Linked DNA regions of Homo sapiens: region 1 is linked to region 2. Evidence: fine-mapped expression QTL. A gene starts in region 2. The other region holds a variant in brackets. All regions are shown on one strand. Distances are between the middles of the regions. Region 1 has its middle 71 kb from the start of NARS2. Region 2 holds the start of LINC02728 (long intergenic non-protein coding RNA 2728).

What was found.
Region 1: its variant is fine-mapped to the expression of LINC02728 in sigmoid colon (GTEx, PIP above 0.99).

What each region holds. Positions count from the first base shown.
Region 1 is chr11:78,641,464-78,650,524 of GRCh38, forward strand. No RefSeq gene overlaps it. Among named protein-coding and RNA genes, the nearest start is that of NARS2, 71 kb to the left of the region's middle. The variant G/A (reference allele first, on the strand shown) is at 3,608.
Region 2 is chr11:78,425,102-78,434,162 of GRCh38, forward strand. LINC02728 (long intergenic non-protein coding RNA 2728) reads right to left here and starts at 4,735. Exons shown (of 4, transcript NR_120564.1): 1 at 4,599-4,735; 2 at 2,208-2,429; 3 at 236-304; 4 at 1-94. RefSeq lists a silencer at 1,443-1,608 and an enhancer at 2,014-2,213.

The sequences.
Region 1 (9,061 bases), 220 kb after region 2:
TTTGTGTCTTCTCCCTTTTTTGTCTTACTAGAAGTTTTATAGTTTTATTCATCTTTTTAAATAACTAAGTTTCAATATTTTTGTTGGTTTATTTGATTTCTGCTCTTTATTATTTCCTTTTTTTCTGCTTGCTTTCTGTTAATTTTGCTCTTATTTTCTTGTTTCTTAGGGTAGAAAGTTTAGATTCTTGATTTGAGAACATACTCTTTCAATTATCTTAAAATTGTGAAAACTTATTTTATGACCCAGGATGTGGTTTATCCTGGTGAATGTTTCACGTGCACTTGAAAAGAATGTGCATTTGGCTGTTGTTGGGCAGAGTATTATATAAGTGTTAATTAAATCTAGTTGGTTGATGGTTTAGTACAGTTCTTCTATATCCTTGCTGATTTTCTGTCCATTAATTCTATTGATTACTAAAAATGGCATGTGGAACTCTCCAACTATAATTGTGGATTTGTTGATTTTTTCTTTCAGTTCTGTCAGTTTTCGCTTCATGCATTTTGAACCTCTGTTGTTAAATGCATGCACATCTAAGTTTGTTGCATCTTCTTGGTGAATTGACCCTTTTATCGTGATAATTTATCTCTGGTAATTTGCTTTGAAGTCTGCTTTGTTTGATATTAATAATCACTGTGGCTTTTTGATTAATGTTTTCACAGTATTTTTATCATTTTTCTTTTTTTTTTGAGATGGAGTCTTGCTCTGTCACCCAGGCTGGAGTGTAGTGGCATGATCTCGGCTCAGTGCAACCTCCGTCTCCCAGGTTCAAGCGATTTTCCTGCCTCAGACTCCTGAGTAGCTGGGATTACAGGTGCCCACCACCATGACTGGCTAATTTTTGTATTTTCAGTAGAGACGGGGTTTCACCATGTTGGCCAGGCTGGTCTCAATCTCCTGACCTCGCGATCTGCTCGCCTTGGCCTCCCAAAGTGCTGAAATTACAGGTGCGAGCCACGGTACTAGGCCATCATTTTACTTTTAACTTATGCATAGCTTTATATTTAAGATGATTTTTAAAATACAACATATAGTTGGGTCATATATTTTTATCCTGATATCTCTTTTAGTTGATGTGTTTAAATCATTTGTATTTATTGTAATTATTGACATCTTTGTATTTAGGCCTTCTATTTTGTTATTTGCTTTTTCTTTGTTTTTCATTTTCTGTCTTCTTTTGGGTTCTTTGAACATTTTTTTCTTGTATTTAAATTATTGTGTTTTTACTATATGTCTTTTAGTCATTACTCGAGATTGGAATAGATGTTCTCAATTTTTTGCTCAGAAATAATAAGAAATATTCACTACTTCAAGTGGAATGTAGAAAGATTATTATGTAGTTCTTTTTACCCTCCCTCCTCTGTATTGAAACCCTTTGAGACTCTTTTACTTTCAGACTCTTTTACTTTCAACAATCAAACATATTTTAAAGTACTTAAGAGAAGAATAATCTGTCATGTTTACACAATTATCATTTTTTGTTGCTCTTTTCCAGCTCCTGATGTTCCAAGAGTTCTGTCCAGTTATCATTTCCTTTGTCTGAAGAACTTCCCTGAGCAGTTGTTGCAGAGCTGATTGCTGATGAAAAATTCTCTTAGTTTTACTTCATTTGTGAATTCTTACTTTTACCTTCATTCCTAAAGGTTATTTTCACTGGACTTAGAATTCTGAGTTGACATTTGTTTTCTCTGAGCACTTTAGAATGTTCTGTCTTCTGGCTTTCATGGGTTTTGATGCAAAGTTCACAGTCACTTGAATCATTGTTTCCGTATAAGTAATGTGTTATTTTTTTCCGGACATTCTCTTTTTTTTTCTTTTGCTTTTAATTTCAGTAGTTTGGTTATAATGTCTAGGAATGAATTTCGTTGAATTTGTCTTGCTTGGAGTTTCCGGGGCTTCCTGAATCTGTAAGTTTATGTTTTTCTCCAAATTCGGAAAGTTTTCAGTTTTTATTTCTGTAAGCATGTTTTCTGCACTGCACTGTCTCTTCTCTTTCTCTGACTCAAATGGCACAATTAGACATTTTCATGTGGTCCCATACATCCCTGAGGCTGTATTCATTGTTTCCAGTCTTTTTTCCTCTGTGTTGTTTAAATTGGCTATTTTAAAATGTCTGTCTTCAAGCTGATTCATTCTTTTTCTGTCATCTCCATTCTGCCATATTGAGCCCATCCAGTGAATGTTTAAACTTTTGGTCATTGTGTTTTTTTAGTTGTCAGATTTTCATTTGGTTTTTCTTTATATATTTTATTTCTTTTCTGAGACTTCATACCTTTCATTTGTTTCAAGTATGTTCCTTCTCACTTTTGGAGCACTTTTATATTGCTGCTTTAGTCTTTCATAGATAAGGTCAACATATGTGTCATCTCAGTATTGGCTAAGATTTTCCTCATAGGCCAAGTGTCTTGACTACTTCAAATGTTATAACACTGGATCTTAATTCTATGGAGAGTTTTTTTTTTTTTTTTTTTTTGCAAGCATTTGACTAGATTGGGTTCAGAACATGTTTTGACCAACCTTCTATAGATTGTGGTTTCAATGTCTGCTTGGTTTTCCAAGACACTGTCAGGCTATTCAAATCTGTTCTGCATGTGTGCCACCCAATGGGCAGTCTGGGACCAGAGCCACGGACTCTTTTCTGAGTTCAGTTCTCAAAGTTTATGGCATACTGCGTAGGATCAGATCTATGCATGCGATGCTCAGGGATGAGTCTGGGCATTCACAAACGACTTTACCACTGTCTTGAGCTTCTCCATCATCACCATCTCCCTTGGTATTTTTCATTGCCCTGAGGCCCACATTTTAGGTTTTCCAGCCAGAAATCTCAGGCTTTATTTGCCTCTCTCTGACACACACTTGCTGCAGCTACTGCACCTGCATCTAGGACCAATTGGTGAAAGGACAGAGAGAAAATGTAGTGGAGGTTCACCCATACTCTTGACACCCCCGCTCCTCCAATCAGAGAGAAGCTTCCCCCATGTCTATGGGCCTCCGCTGTTAATGCTGCCACTCTCAGGGGGCCCCTTCCCACTCCTCGAGGTGAAATAGAGGTTTCTTTTGGATGCGCACCTCTGGACTTTCAACTACCTGAGTCAAGGCGTGGGGATACCAGAGTGGAAAAGGGAGGTGAATTCTGCCAGTTCAGTGGCCCTCCAAATTTTGTTCTTCTCCAATCTGGCTGCCACTATTTGCTTTTCGGCTCCACATAGCTGCTCTATGCAGCCTGTGCAGGTTCTCTAACTGCTCCACTTACTTGGATATTTTACTTATTTAAAGAAGAGTTCCAGTTAATGAAGGAATAATAGACTAAGAAGTCAGCATTTTTTTATTTAACGTCACCAAATCTTATCACTAGAAGTAGAATAATCAAACACTATGTGTCCCCCATTAGATGTAATAGAAAGTACCTATGAGTTAGTCTTGCTTAAAACAATTGAACCTGAATTTAATTAAGCCTTTAGTGCTACATGCCAGCTTCTAGGAATTATGAGGCCTGAGAACAAGTAAAGTGACACCATGAAGAACTAGCCGCTAAATCCAGGTTGTGAGATATCCTGGAGTACAAATAACCTTTTTCTTTAATAAATAAATAGCATTAAAAAGAAGG[G/A]AAAACTATTATAGAATGGAGAGACTTCAGAAACACAACACATAAAGGGGGGATAAGTAATAGTACTCACGAGATTCTTAAGATTCAATTAGAAGAGCAATGTGAAGTGCTTTTCACAGTGCCTGGCAAATGGTCAATGGAAATGATTACTACCTTGTGCCACCTCTCAGAGTCTCAGTCTCCTTTTGTTTGTAACACACTAGGAGATGACAGCCTCCCCCTGTCTTAACAGTTAAGGAATTCAGCCACCTTAGTCCTCCATCCCTCTGCACCTGGTCAAGAAGGTGGCCTTGGCAGTATCTGCTGCAGTGTGCACAGTTGGCCGGTAGATGGCAGCTCAGGCCAGTTTATCTGGAGCCTTGGACCCAGGAAGAGCTAGTTCTGTTTTTGCTGCAAGAGGCTAGGTCCTGCTTGACCACCCATCAGACAGTATTCACCTTCTCTTCCTAGGTAGGAGGGATAAAGCTAAAGGAAGAGAATCGGTGGAGCTTTTTAGATATAATAAGGGCTAGCAGTTTGCTGAGAATTCCTTATCTGCTGGGCAGAGAGGTATTCTTCAGACCCCATTAGACCAGGGCTTGGGCACTGCCTGGCCAGCTGTCCCCAAACTCTGTTTCTCATCCCGTGAGTCCCAGTGCCTGCTGCCTCATCCTGAATCACTGGTGTGCAGGTACAACCTGGCTTAGCTTCTCTTCCCACCAGACTGAGGGAATTAACACCTACACACTCATCCACACCTGGTGTAAGATGTCCTTGAGGGAAAGTTTGCAGAATGAGTAAATAAGTGAATGCCTTATGGATCTTCAGTTATATATCTCTCTTCCTAAGTAGACCAGTAAATTCCAGGACAGGGTGTACACATTTTCTTTTTGTCTCAGCCTAGGAGGGAGTCTGGGTAGTGATGAATCGTGCAAGCCTGGAACTAGGTTGCTCAGCTTCAACTCCCAGTTCCATCTGCTTGCTACCTCACATGCCCTTGGCAAGTGCCTGCCTCTCCGCCTGAAAATTGGATACTAACAGTACCTCTCTTGTTGTACTGTGGTGAGTAATAAATGAGCAAATGCATTCAAAGTGCCTAGGAAACTGCTTGACACATTGTAGGCACCCAGTACATGTTAATTGCCATCTGAAGCTTTCCTTGCAGTGGGAAAGATTTAATGAACTTACAAAAATGCATTCAAGGAAGAAGTGTAAAAGGCCTAGTGTGGTTGTCTGATAGAGGGAATGGCTCTCAAGAAATAGCTCCTTCTCCTCCTCCTTGTTCTGCTTGTTATTGCTGTTAGCATCATTGATTGTTTAAAGATGCCTAAGTTAAATCTCTCCAAGCCCCATGAGTCGTGAGTGCTGTTTTGTCCACCTTTTTCCAACCTCAGGCACAGCAGCAGCCTCTGTAGTTGTCTGTATGGTGCTGGGGGCACCACATTCAGAACTGAAGGATCCTCTTCACATTGGCCCAGGGAGCAGAGGGAAGGTAGGGACTGCTAGAGCTAATTTTCCTGCTTTTCCTTTCTGGTGTGAGAGTGTGAGGTGCTTTTAGGGCATCATCTGAGAGTCATTGCTGAACCTTGGGACTGTTGTACAGGTCGAAAGGGTTCTCCTATGGAGGTCGTCTGAACTCTAGGAAGTACAGGAGCAGGACAAGGGATGAGCATGATCTTACCTGATCTCACCCATGTTTTTCTGCCTATCAATTTGGAGGAATGGGAAAGTGTGACAGGTGGCCACTAGGTGGCGTTATCAATGTGAAGAAATCAGGGGTGTGTTAATACATCACCTGTCCTGTACAGTAGAGTGGAAGAGCAGATAAACGCCTAGCTGGAGAAAATAAAGCTTCTCATATAAATGCTTCCCAGCCATCTGGCAAGATTTTGGGTGGAAATGGAGACTAACCCAGGAGAATGTGCATGGTGTGTGCATGAATATTTAAGAAAACCAGAGGAGGAGGAGGAAAAGTCAAGTCTACCTGATTGGCCTCTGCCCACCTGTTCAGCCCTAACTCTTAAGGCCCCTCCCCTGGCTCCCCCACGATATGCCAAGCCACCCGCAGGACACATTGGTACCTTAACTCTACGACACCCTCCACCTGGAATGCTCTTCTTCATTTCTTTCTTTGAACAGTTAAGGGGTTGCCTTCCTCTAGAAGCCTCTCCTGATTTATCCTCCCCTAGGCAGAACAGGTTTGTAGTTTCTTTGTGCCCCACAGTCTTTACCTGTGCTCCAAGTCTTTGCCACTTAATGGACTTAGATGTTTACCACTGAGTGGGGGTTTCCTGGCTTGGAGCTGGTGGGAAGGTCTCGGCTGGTTCTATCCAGTCCTGACCCAACATGTATGGAAGGGCTTTCCTGCCCACAGCTTCCCCACCCATTTGGGGGGCTCCAGGGCTCATCCTCTGCCTCAGGTTCTTGAGAATGTCCTAGAATGCTGAAAGTTTGTTCACACTGGGTAAGCAGTGTGGACAGGGCTGCCTCCATAACTTGCACAGCCCAGTACAAAGTGAAAACACAGGACCTTGTTCAAAAATTAAGTGTTTCAAGATGGCAACAGCAGAGCATTAAACCAAGAGTGGGCCCTAAGCGCAGGACCCTGTGTGACTACACAGGTCGCACGCCTTTGGAGCCAGCCCTAAATTTGGAGTTGAGCGAAGTCTCAGGTGAGCCTTGTGCCTGTGGATGGGTGACTTTCTGGGCACTGGAAAGGTGGTTGTCCATCTTCAGATGTCAATGTATGAAGCCTGTCACATCAGAAACTCCCTCACTCCTGAGCTTTAAGATGTAAGATCGATAGCCTAGAACTTGGAGTTAGGTAAATCTGGACTGATGCTGATTCTATCATTTAATAGCACAAACCATCTCTGGGTCTTATAAAGCTCATCTGCAAAATGGAAGGTAATAATACCTACCATGAATTTTGTTGTAGGTTCAAATGAGATTAAATGTAGGAAGTACTGGGTCTGCAGCCCACACCTATCGTGTCTACTGAGCCACACTGCTTGTCCTCAAAAGCATCTGATTAGAGAGAACAGGGCAGATGTTGGGCCTAACAGTTGGGTGGCACTTGCTCAGTGAGGTGGGTCACCATGTGATGAAGCCCCAGTGAGCTCCTCCTGAGCTCTGTGGTCTCAGGCAGCATCAGCTGAGTCAGGCAAGAACTGATGGGGGGAACTAGGGAGACCTGGAGCAGCTCTCAGATAACAACATCACCATGGGGAGATCCATTTATCATTTATCTAACAAACCTGTGTACAAGGTTCCTGTGCCAGGTACCAGGGATACGGTGGTAAACCAAATAGGTGGGGTCCCCCCACCCCGCGTCAGCTTTAATGCACGTGATTATTGTGTCCTGTTCTCTTGGATGCATCCTTTGCTAGCCAATAAGCAACCAGCATTTACTAGGTGCCTACTGCGGCGTAGGATATGAGATTTCAGTAGATGCTGTGAGACTCCTTCAACCCTCTTGGATGGAAATGAATGAAGCCTGTGTGCTTTCATTCCCAGCAGCTAACACCTGGGAGTCTTTGTAGGCAGGCTGTCCTCAGGCTGCCAGAGCTCATTTTGCCTGAGTGCACGGAGAGCCAGAAGTGCCTGGGTAAAGACAGTCCCAGGAGCAGCCCTTAACTGATGACTGGCAGGTGCAGAGGTGTCAAAAGCCCAGCTGCCTGCCCCCAGGGGGAAAACTCCCAGGTGTGACTTGTTATGTTTCCACAACTCTCCTGCAGGACTTAGCCAAAATTATTCTCTTGGAACTTTGCTGGATTTTCACACCCTTGATCGGCCCTCCCTATTTCCTCTCCCTCATCTCTATTTGTGTACCCATTTTCCCTGGGACCACTTCCTAGTAACCTACTTTCAGACACATCCTTATCTCAGGATCTGTTTATGGGGAACTCCCTGACCCACAACAGAAAGAGGAGAAAAAAGGAGGTAGCAATTGTTCCTGGTCTTTGTGTTACTACAAACAGTGAAGCAATGGGCCAGGAGTCAGTCATTATGAATACTAAAGTACTACTTGGCAAATTATTTTTGCTATAAATTAGCATGCCTTCAGAATTGTCCCTGTAACGTGATCTTTCTCTTTCTTGCTTGCATTCTGAGATGCTTTATGAGTGGGGGAAAAAGAAGAGGTGTTCCTGCGTGCTGGGATTTGCAGATCACCGCCACCCACGTCATCGCAAATCTAGGCATACCTATGGGAGTGGGTCCTACATCAAACATCAACCATTGTGGGTTTTGCAGTGTGAAAAAAGTGGAGACATGCTGGATTGGAGCCCCAGGAAATTTTGGCTTCATGCTTACTGGACTTGGTTTCCAGAAGTGAGGCTCGGAGGCCCAGGCTCCCCCAGGTCCACATGAAAAACACACTTTCCTCTCACCTGATCTTTTCTCACTAAATCCACCTCTTCCAGGAAATTTTCTCGGGTTCCTTCCTCTCTTCACTCAGCCCTCCCTGAGTTCTCCTTTGGTACCGTGGAAAGCAGGTTTTGTTGGAGCTACTTTCTTAGCACTTGGGTACTCCCCCTCTCTCCACCCCCAAGCCAGCTGGAGGCGCTGAGTTTTTAGCCCAGATCACAGGCTGATAGAGCACATTAGGAACCTTAGCCATGGGCAGGACGTGGGGGCTGGGGCTGGTCCTGCTGTCACAGAATCATGGCTATGGGCAGGTGATGAGATTGTGTCCCCCAGAGCTTGGTTCTCCCCACCACCAAACCCATGTGAGTCGAGTGTGGACACCAGGGCACTTGTGTCCATCTCACTGCCACGTTATCACCTTGCCCTGCTTGTTCCTCTAGCCCCTCTGCCTAGACTGACACCTCCAGGGTCTGGACCAGACTCTTGGGTGTTGATGGGATTCTGCTGCCAACAGAATTCTGCTCCTGTACCATCCAGTCTGCACCCTCACACTCCGTAGTGTTGGAGCCCTGGCTGCTGTAAAACTGGCAATGTCTCAGACGCCAGACTGAGCTCAAGCTAATGGAGCCTCTTGAGTCCACTGGGTGGGCCTCAGGCCACCTCTCTGAGATTTCTGGGTTCTAGCAAGCTTGGATGCCGAGGCTTCTGGAATAGTGACAGAGAGCACATGCTCCTTAGTATCACAGAGTCTGTTTTCTGAATCTTTCTAGACTCCCTGATTGAGTGGTGATGCTTATCAGCAAAGGGTCCTGTCTTACACCTTCAGGTTTTCTGAGGCTGCTTAGGCTGGGATCTTGTATATATGAAGTGCTCATTAAATGGCTGTTGACTGATTGTAATTCCTCCTCCAGGCCTTGTCAAGGGCCTGGCTATGGTGTTTATTCATACAGTCATCCATTCTCTACTCATCCATTTACTCACTCATATAATAAATATCCGAATCTGAAAGAATGACCCCATTTCCTCTATTCTCATATCATAGGTTGTTACCCTAAGAACTTAGATATTCATCAGAAGGAATTTCAAAGCTCTACTGCGTCTTGGCCC
Region 2 (9,061 bases):
ATCAGGGTTAATTCTGATGATGTAGTAACTCTGAAGACTGTTTTTTAACTGGATTATTGTTGGGTCAACAATCATGTGGCATTACATTTAGTGGCTGAAACAAAAGCCAGAATTAAAACAGCTTCCCCTCAGCCCCCACCCACCCCTTCTAAATGACAGCCTCACCGGGAATGTAAGTTATGAGGCACATTTAACACAATTAACCAAAAAAGGAAAGTAGGTGCAGTCAAATTACCTGCAAGCATCTCCAAGGTCCAGTGTCAATCTAGAGTAAGAGCTGGAAACTTTGTTGTTTTTTCTTTTCCTAGAATGGTTAGAAAATATGTTGGCAGCAATCAGTATAATTTAATATTTTCATAACATTCTAGGAAAAAGCCCCGAGATTTTCCTCTGAAACTTTCCTGAACCAGACAAATGATTTTAGCAGTTCACAGTTCCTCTGTATTTTCCATGCATGTTTTCAAAATGATTATTGTAAGTGAACACTAAATTCACGGTGTGGCATACCAGGGCTGAAAGAGTGTGGTATACAAAGCTCTGAACACATCTGGCACTGTTTCTGAAGAGCAAGGTCTTTATCTTATTTTCATAGATTTGGCCATCATTGTTTATGGTCAGTCCACTTGCAGGGTCTGGGCTGCTCTACATGCACACATACTTATTTAGTCTCTTCCAGTTTTTAGTTTTGGCTAGCCTGAAACACAGCTAACGCCCATGACAAGGGCCATTCTTAATACAGTTCTGGAAAGCAGAATCTTCAAAAATAGATGGTTTGGGAAGCTGCCAAATGTGTTGGTTCTTCAAAATCTTTTAAATCCAATTGTGTGGTTCCAAAAAAGGTCTGACGTGTCCAATCCCCTCTGTAAATAAGCCTCCATTTATTTGCTTTCTGTTTTTGTGACTTAGATTATTAAAAAATTTGAAAAGCAAAGAAGCCACTTACCCTCCTACTGCATCTTATTTTATCAGGAATTTCCCATCTAAGTAATTCCTGATTGACATATATTCTGGGATATGTAGATGTGATTATAAGGTAATGAGACTTAAAAAGTAATGAGAATTCCTTCTGTAAGTCACACAGTATATTAATTTGACTTCTTTTAGTTGTGAAAGCAGATACTCATTTCAAACTCACTCACGATCCAATGGAGATGGTAAGTGAGTTATCTCCCGTGGAACCCATGGAAAAGTTGAATAATCTGGCCTCAGAAAGAGTAGCAACCAGGGAATAAACATGGCAAAAACCAGGCATCCATTTTGCATGTCTCCCTCACCTCCGAACATTTTGCCTTCGTTTCTTTCTCTGAAGACTGCTTTCTCTGTCTCTCTGGGTACATGGTTATACCCACTGGCTCCTAAGTTTATGTGTTCCTGGCTCAAGCAACCAGTCCAGACTCTCCAGTGTCCTCAACCCCAATTTCCCAAGAGAAGGTGAAACTGGTCTATTTGGGATCAGGTGTCCATCCCTACACCAATCAGCAAAGGAAGCTCTGGCCCCCAGGATGTCTGCTAGGGACCCACTGGCCAGGACAGGGGTAGGGGAATTGTCAGAAAAAGGACAGGTTTGATAACTAAGTAAGACACCTTGGAAGGTGTTTAATAGAGACACAAAAACCAATCTTGTTTCTTTCCCCTAGTATCCCTTTAAATTAGGAATATACTTAGAAAACCATATGTTTCTTTCTATTCAAATACAAAATATATTTCTATTCAAACACATGTTACTAGGGAATGGTTATTTATGTACAAGTTAGTCAAGTCTCAGCAGGGATTTTCTGAGAACCTACTACTTCAAGTTCAGCATAGGAATACCAAGATAAGACTAGGTTCTTCAGAATTTCAGGGTCTTTCTGGGGAGAGAAATAGGCAGGTATCTCCAGTAGTATTTGGGCAATGTTATAAGAGGTATGTTCAAAGGACTGTGGGAGCACTGAGAATTATGAACCAACTGTATGGGGACTGAAACTACATGAGGTTAGGTTTAATTTTGGGTAGCCCACAGATAGGCACAGAATAGACATAAGTTAACATTTGTTAAATTCGATGACATAAATAGTAGCTACCTTCAATTTGGAGGCAGTAAAATTGTCTAGATTAAGGGAGCAAGTTGGGGAAAACCACTAACTGAAAATCTGAGCAATTAAATTCATTTGGGACTAGCTTCTGAATTTCTTCTCAATTTAATACAATCATTCAACAATACTTACTGAGCATTTACTATGCACAGGCACAGGGCTAGGTGCTGGCGATGTGATGAACAGCATAGAGATGTTCTTCCGAATAAGTCTAAGTCACTGTATTCCAGAAGCAATGCCAGGAGGATGCCCTAGAAGTCACCTTCAGTAACAGACAGATAACTAAACTCATTACTACTTTTGATTCCTGCCTTTTGGTCCTGTGTTCAGGAAACAGCTCCAGGCAGATTTGTGCTGAAAGGGATAGTTTAAAATTTTATGAGATATTTCAGACACATAAGGAGGGAAAAGCTAGTTTTGGGAAATTTTTTTTTTAAGAAATATTTCCCTGTTGTCTGATGGACGTATTTCCCCCACCCTGTTTTTGGTCACCTTAATGATTCAATTGGTGGTTTCTAAATGAGTGCCCACTATGTGTCAGACACTCTCCAAGGCACTGCAGATATAAAAATGAATGCATTCTTATCCCTGCTGTCGCGGACCTCACATTCTGGCAGAGGAGACGAATGGCAGCATAAGACAACCGGTATTTGCATAAGGCGCTGAAGGAGCATAACGAAAGGAGAAAGTCTGGAAGCCATTGTCCAACCCTTGGTTTCCTGAAGTAAAAATGATTTCAACACTAACACGTGAAAATGCGGAAATCCTAGCTGCATTTTGGAGTGTCACCACTCTTGAAATAAAGCCTCATAGGTTCAGAAAATGTGATCAGAGCTGTTAATATTTTGATTCTGGGTGACTAAGAAGTGACAGGTGTGTAGCCTGAGAAAGCCACCCAAGCCCATTTACAGGCATGTGGAGACAAGCAATGTTGAGTCAGGGTGCAGGGTACACCCCAGCTCTATCGGCAGGACAGGTACCTGAGCAGGGGACTTTTAAAATCTTCTGTTGAGAGCTACTAACCCATCAGAAGAAAATCAGTCAAGAACTAAATGACAGTGAAACTTGACACAAAAATTTCCATATCGGATTTTTAAAAAAATGATTGTTGATCTCAACAAACAGCCCACTCCTACTTTTTGAGAAGCATTAACCAGCACAAGTTTGTACTTAGTAAACTAGATGTAAGTTGTTTTCAATACAATTGACATATCTGGCTGGGGGGTGGGGTGGAGAAAGGAAGGGGAAGCACCTGGATGTTGATACAGTACTAGGCATAGAAGGAACCAGAGTGGGAGATTAACACTTGCATAGAAAGAAGAAAACATTAGGAGAAGTGGTGGGGAGAAATGGAGTGAGGAAAAGAGATAAAAGTTGAGAGGTGTGGTAGTTTCTACACTGCAAGGGTTCCAAGGGGTATCACTGCAGGCTGGCCTTCCCATCCTTGATAGAGACACATAAAAACCAGCTCAAGCATGCAGAGAAAACAGGTAACTTCTTCAATGAGCAGATTTGTATAATTATTACTTACCGTTTAGTGTAAAAATATTAAAATCTCACTGCAGGTTTCTCAGTACAGAATTAAAATACTTACACTAGAATTACTCAGGGTGACTGTTTAAAACAATGTAAATTGTGAGCTAGTTCCATCACAGACCTACTGAATCAGATCTTCTGGTGGGAGTAAGATAATGTGAATTTTTAATACGCTCCGCAGTGATTCACATACACAGTAAACTTTGACAAGACTGTACAGAATGGGAGTCTCTGAGAGCAGGGAGTATGTCCTATTTGTCTCAGCACTCATAGAATCTAGCACGGGGATTGGGAGAGTGAGAGCTCAATAAAAGTTTATTGAACTAAACTGAATACACCTAATATACCTAAGAGTCTTTAAAGCAAAAGTCACTCAATTCCACTACCCTGTAATCCATTTTTTCCATATTCTAGTCTATGTACACAGGTTTTACACTGTTGTAATTGCAAACTCACCATTTTAGATTGTATTTTTCAATATATTTTCTCTTACAATTTTTAATGGCTGTAAAACATTCCACCCAACATGAATAAGTATCTCTGTTCATATAGATTTTGAGTTTTGAAAAGGTTTTCCTTAGGGGACCTTACATTTGTGCAGTGCTTGTCAGTTTATGAAACCCTTTCACACAATCTTCATTGCTTTCACAACACTCTGTAAGATAAGCATTATCCTCATTTTGCAGCTGGGTATACAGACTCAAAGATTAATTAACTTGCTCAAGCTTCTACACCTAGTAAGTGGAATGTCAGATTAAACCAGGATCTTCTCACTATGCATTTAATGCCCTTTCCAAGGCACCAAATAATTGGACCCAACAGTTTCCTGATGCAAAAACCTGTAATTTAAAATGTGGCAGATGGAAATTACATTTAAAGAGAACATTGGTCAGCTATATCCTAACTATATAGGAATCAGCTCCTGCCTCTTGGGGTATGGCAAAGAAAATGCATATATTAGTTGACAACTTCTGTGTAAGAACTTACTGTTCTTCAGCAATGCCTCATAACGCTGTCTGTATACGATCCAAGCCCATTTCTGCAATCCTCACATGAAGGGAGTTGGGACTGTCCCTGAACACTCTGACACTGTAATTAAAGTTCTTCGGCAACCACCACAGGCTGTAAGGCAGATAGGAAGGAGGCAGTGGAGACTTGAAAGCTCTTCTAAGATTGGTATCACAGGAAACTTGGGTAGCAGCTGAGTGAACAGGAGAGGGAAGCTTTTATGTACCAATAGAAATGCCCATTATAAGGACACACGACCTGATGAATAACAGAGGGGTGCAGCACTTCAGGGAAGGACAGACAGTCCACCTGAGCAGTTAGAGGTTCTATACTGGAAAACAGGAGGAGTTGTGTTTCTATTTTATTCCATTTGCATGATACAGAGAGACAGGTTTCCTTATTCTCAGGTAGAAGTTTCTAACAACCAGAGCTCTCTGAGGAGAGAAAAACTTCTTGGCTGGGTGTGGTGGCTCAAACTTGTAATCCCAGCACTTTGGGAGGCTGAGGGAAGCGGACTACTTGAGCCCATGAGTTTAAGACCAGCCTGGGCAACAAAGTGAGACCCTGTCTCTATAAAAAATTAGCTAGATGTGGTGGCACATACCTGTGATCCCAGCTACATGGGAGGCTGAGGATTGCTTGGGCCCAGGAGGTCGAGGCTGCATTGAGCCATGTACACATCACTGCACTTAAGCCTGAGCGACAAAGCAAGACCGTTTCCAAAAAATAAGGCTAGGCACAGTGGCTCATGCCTGTAATCCCTGCCCTTTCAGAGGCCAAAGTGGGAGGACTGCTTGAGCCCAGGAGTTCAAGACCAGCCTGGGCAACATGGCAAAACCCTGTCTCTACAAAAAATACAAAAATTAGCTGGGTGTGGTGGCTTGTGCCTGTGGTCCCAGCTACGTGGGAGGCTGAGGCAGAAGGATCACTTGAGCCTGGGAGGCTGAGGCTGCAGTGAGCTGTGATCACGTCACTGCACTCTAGCCTGAGTGAGAGAGTAAGACCCTGTCTCTAAATAAATAAATAAATAAATAAATAAATAAAAGATCTCTATTAAGATAGTGAGTTCCTATTCAGTGAAGCTACAATAGGTAAATTACTAGGAATCAGGAGAAATACAGAGGGGAGTAGTTCATATATCATAAACGGGAAGAATTATCTTCTTTCCAAGATTTTTCAAAACTAGGTTCCTAGGAAAATGGCAAACCAGCAATTCTTATTGAGCTAGTGTGTAGAGAAAGTTATGAATCAAAGAATCACAGTTGTAGATGGCTCAGGTTCGGCAAAATACAGTTCCAGCTGTGTACATGGGCACCTGTTGCAGAAAAAAAACCTTTGTTACACAGGCTCACCATGTATCTATTTTCAGATTATTACCTTGAAAAATCAAAGGTCTGTGACTTCGAGGAAGATATTAATAATTCCTATCAAAGTTTCTTTCATGTATCTTTCTATCCACAATTCAAAGATGATCCTAAAAGGAAGGTGGCAAATGTGAGTATAAACTGATAACAAATTGAGGCACAATGAGCTTAAGTACATTGCTGGGTCTAGGATCCTTTACCCCATTTTTAGTGTTTCTCTTTACTCCAATGTATTTGAGATCAAACATCATCTTCCTTCACATTCTCCTGTCCCTTCACCCTGGGTAGAACAAGGTCAAGGTGAGTATTTTGCGACACATTCAGTAAACTCTGGGGCTTAAGATGCAAGATTCTTTGGTTATTAGGTTTTATGTTTTTTGGTTTCTCTGGAAGCTGAGGGCAGTGAATTTTATTTGCAGTCTTTCTCTCAGTATTAGGAACTTTCGATTTTTTTTTTTTTTTTTTTTGAGACAGAGTCTCGCTCTTTTGCCTAGGCTGGAGTGCAGTGGTGTGATCTCGGCTGACTGCAAGTTCCGCCTCCCGGGTTCATGCCATTCTCCTGCCTCAGCCTCCTGAGTAAGCTGGGACTACAGGCGCCTGCCACCACACCCGGCTAATTTTTTTTTTTTTTTTTTTTTTTTTTTTTTTGTAGAGACAGGGTTTCACCGTGTTAGCCAGGATGGTCTCAATCTCCTGACCTTGTGATCTGCCGGCCTTGGCCTCCCAAAAGGAACTTTGAATTTTTATAACAAATAAACCAAATAAATTTCATGACCAGTAAGATACAAAGGAACAAAGTCCACAATGTATTGTCTTGATAACTAAGAAAATAAGATACATGAAACATGTTTGTGAACTGTAAAGCAATGCCTAAATAATAGTCATGTTATTAGTAACAATTATGAACAGTAAAGGTATAGCAGAAAATTTTTGAAAAGTCATGAGCTATGTTAATTCAATGACCAGCTGCCTGAATGACAGTTTAAAAACCACCTAAACTCCTGGTGTCTTCTTTATAAAGGTCCCCCAGAAACTATCCAGTGTGCTGATAATGGCTAGAAATTCGCTGGACTCCATTTATGGTAATGCTGGGTCCAAACTGCACAACAGCTAACTGGAGCCTTAGTTGATCACAGGCCAATCTAGGGCTCCTGGCAACAGTAGAATGTCCAAGTTCAGGGAGGGATGCTGACCATGACTTAAAATACTTTCTTACAAAAGCCATACTAAATCATTTCAATACAGTGATTAAGGTTGCTTTGGGCCCTTTTCTTTTTCTTTTTTTTTTTTTTTGAGATGGAGTCTTGCTCTGCTGCCCCCCGCTGGAGTGCAATGGCACCATCTCGGCTCACTGAAACCTCCGCCTCCCAAGTTCCAGCAATTCTCCTGCCTCAGCCTCCCAAGGAGCTGGGATTACAGGAGCCTACCACCACAGCTAGCTAATTTTTGTATTTTTAGTAGAGATGGGTTTCATCATGTTAGTCAGGCTGGTCTCGAACTCCTGACCTCAGGTGATCCGCCTGTCTTGGCCTCCCAAAGTGCTGGGGTTACAGGTATGAGCCACCGTGCCCGGCCCGCTTTCTGCCCTTTTCTTAACGCTTTTACTATCTTTTAATTCTGAAGATTAACTGGGGAGAAATTATAATCAGATGTTACTCTCACCTGTTTTTTTAATTATACATAGATTGCAGACTGAATACAAATATTGATCAGAAGCCAAAACACCCCACACATTACTTATCAATCAACCCAGGCCAATCTGTCTTTCAACTGTACATTTTTGTGTTCTTGCCTCACCACTTAGTAAAATAAACATAAGAATAAATAGCAATCCAATCCAAATAAGCATCTCTCATCTATAATTATCTGAAGCAACGGATTTAAAGATGGGTAGAGTTAATCCACCTCACCAAGTACATCTTCAATGCCTGTTCAGTCATGCTTCAATGTCTACATTCAATTTATAGAGAATATGAATATATAACATTGTAGAGGGAGGCTTCTGGCAGATCCAGTCTGACAAGAACAAAAGGTCAAATAGTTCTTTTGCTATTCTGTGACAGTTGAAGAGTCTCTGGGTTGGAGAGTTATGTCTAGATCTGGAATGGATCACTCACACAATTAAGTTCTTGTCAGACCTAAAAACATGACAGCACAACTTTCCCCAGGCAAAAGGACAGCCAGATGGAAAGCAACTATTTTTCTCAACCTATCTCAAAATTTGAAATAAGAATGAGAATAATGGAAAAAACCTTTCTAAGTTTTAGAATATACTTCTACTTTGGTTGCTGGGGTTCTTATTTTCAGGTGGCATTTGGAAATCTTAGGAAAACATAATCTGATTTCTTTCCTCATTGGAAATGGGTTGCTCAAGTGAAAAACTAACCCTCTTATCACCTTTTAACTCAGAAACTGAGCACTAAAAGCTATTATGGTGTAGACAGTACTCAACTATTGAATCCATACGTTTATTCATTATACACTGACTTATACAACACTGTTTGCAATGTAGAATTTAGATATTCATATCTCAGCTGATGAGTAAACATTTTGAGTTTTTTCCTGCTGATGCTGCCTGCAAGCAACAGTTCAGTTTTGGCATTTTCATCATCTTTGTCTGACTTGAATTTTTGTTTTTGTTCAATTATTGGCAAAATAGAAGTATTGCACCAAAGACAAATTATTAGGCTTGCTATAGGTGGCAAGTATTTGGCTTCAACCAGATATTCATTGTGTGATCAACTATCAAGGAAAAGAATGTATAAAGTTTTGGAAATACATTGGTGAAAACACTATCAAAAAGGCAAGATGCCTTGAGAAGGACCTTTCCTCCTTCCACATATACAGTATATGAACACATTTAAGACTACTGTTCAACTTTCAGCGATGTGACTTCGTTATACATTTTGGAGACTTAATATGTACTAAAATAGGGGACTACATATTGCCTAAAGGTTAGACTCTAAATCAATTATTAGTGACTAAGTTCAGCACAGGTTCACAGAAGATTAAGAGATAAAAGGATCCATAGAGCTTACCTACTTCAAAATGTGATAGTACTATAGATGAAAAAACTGG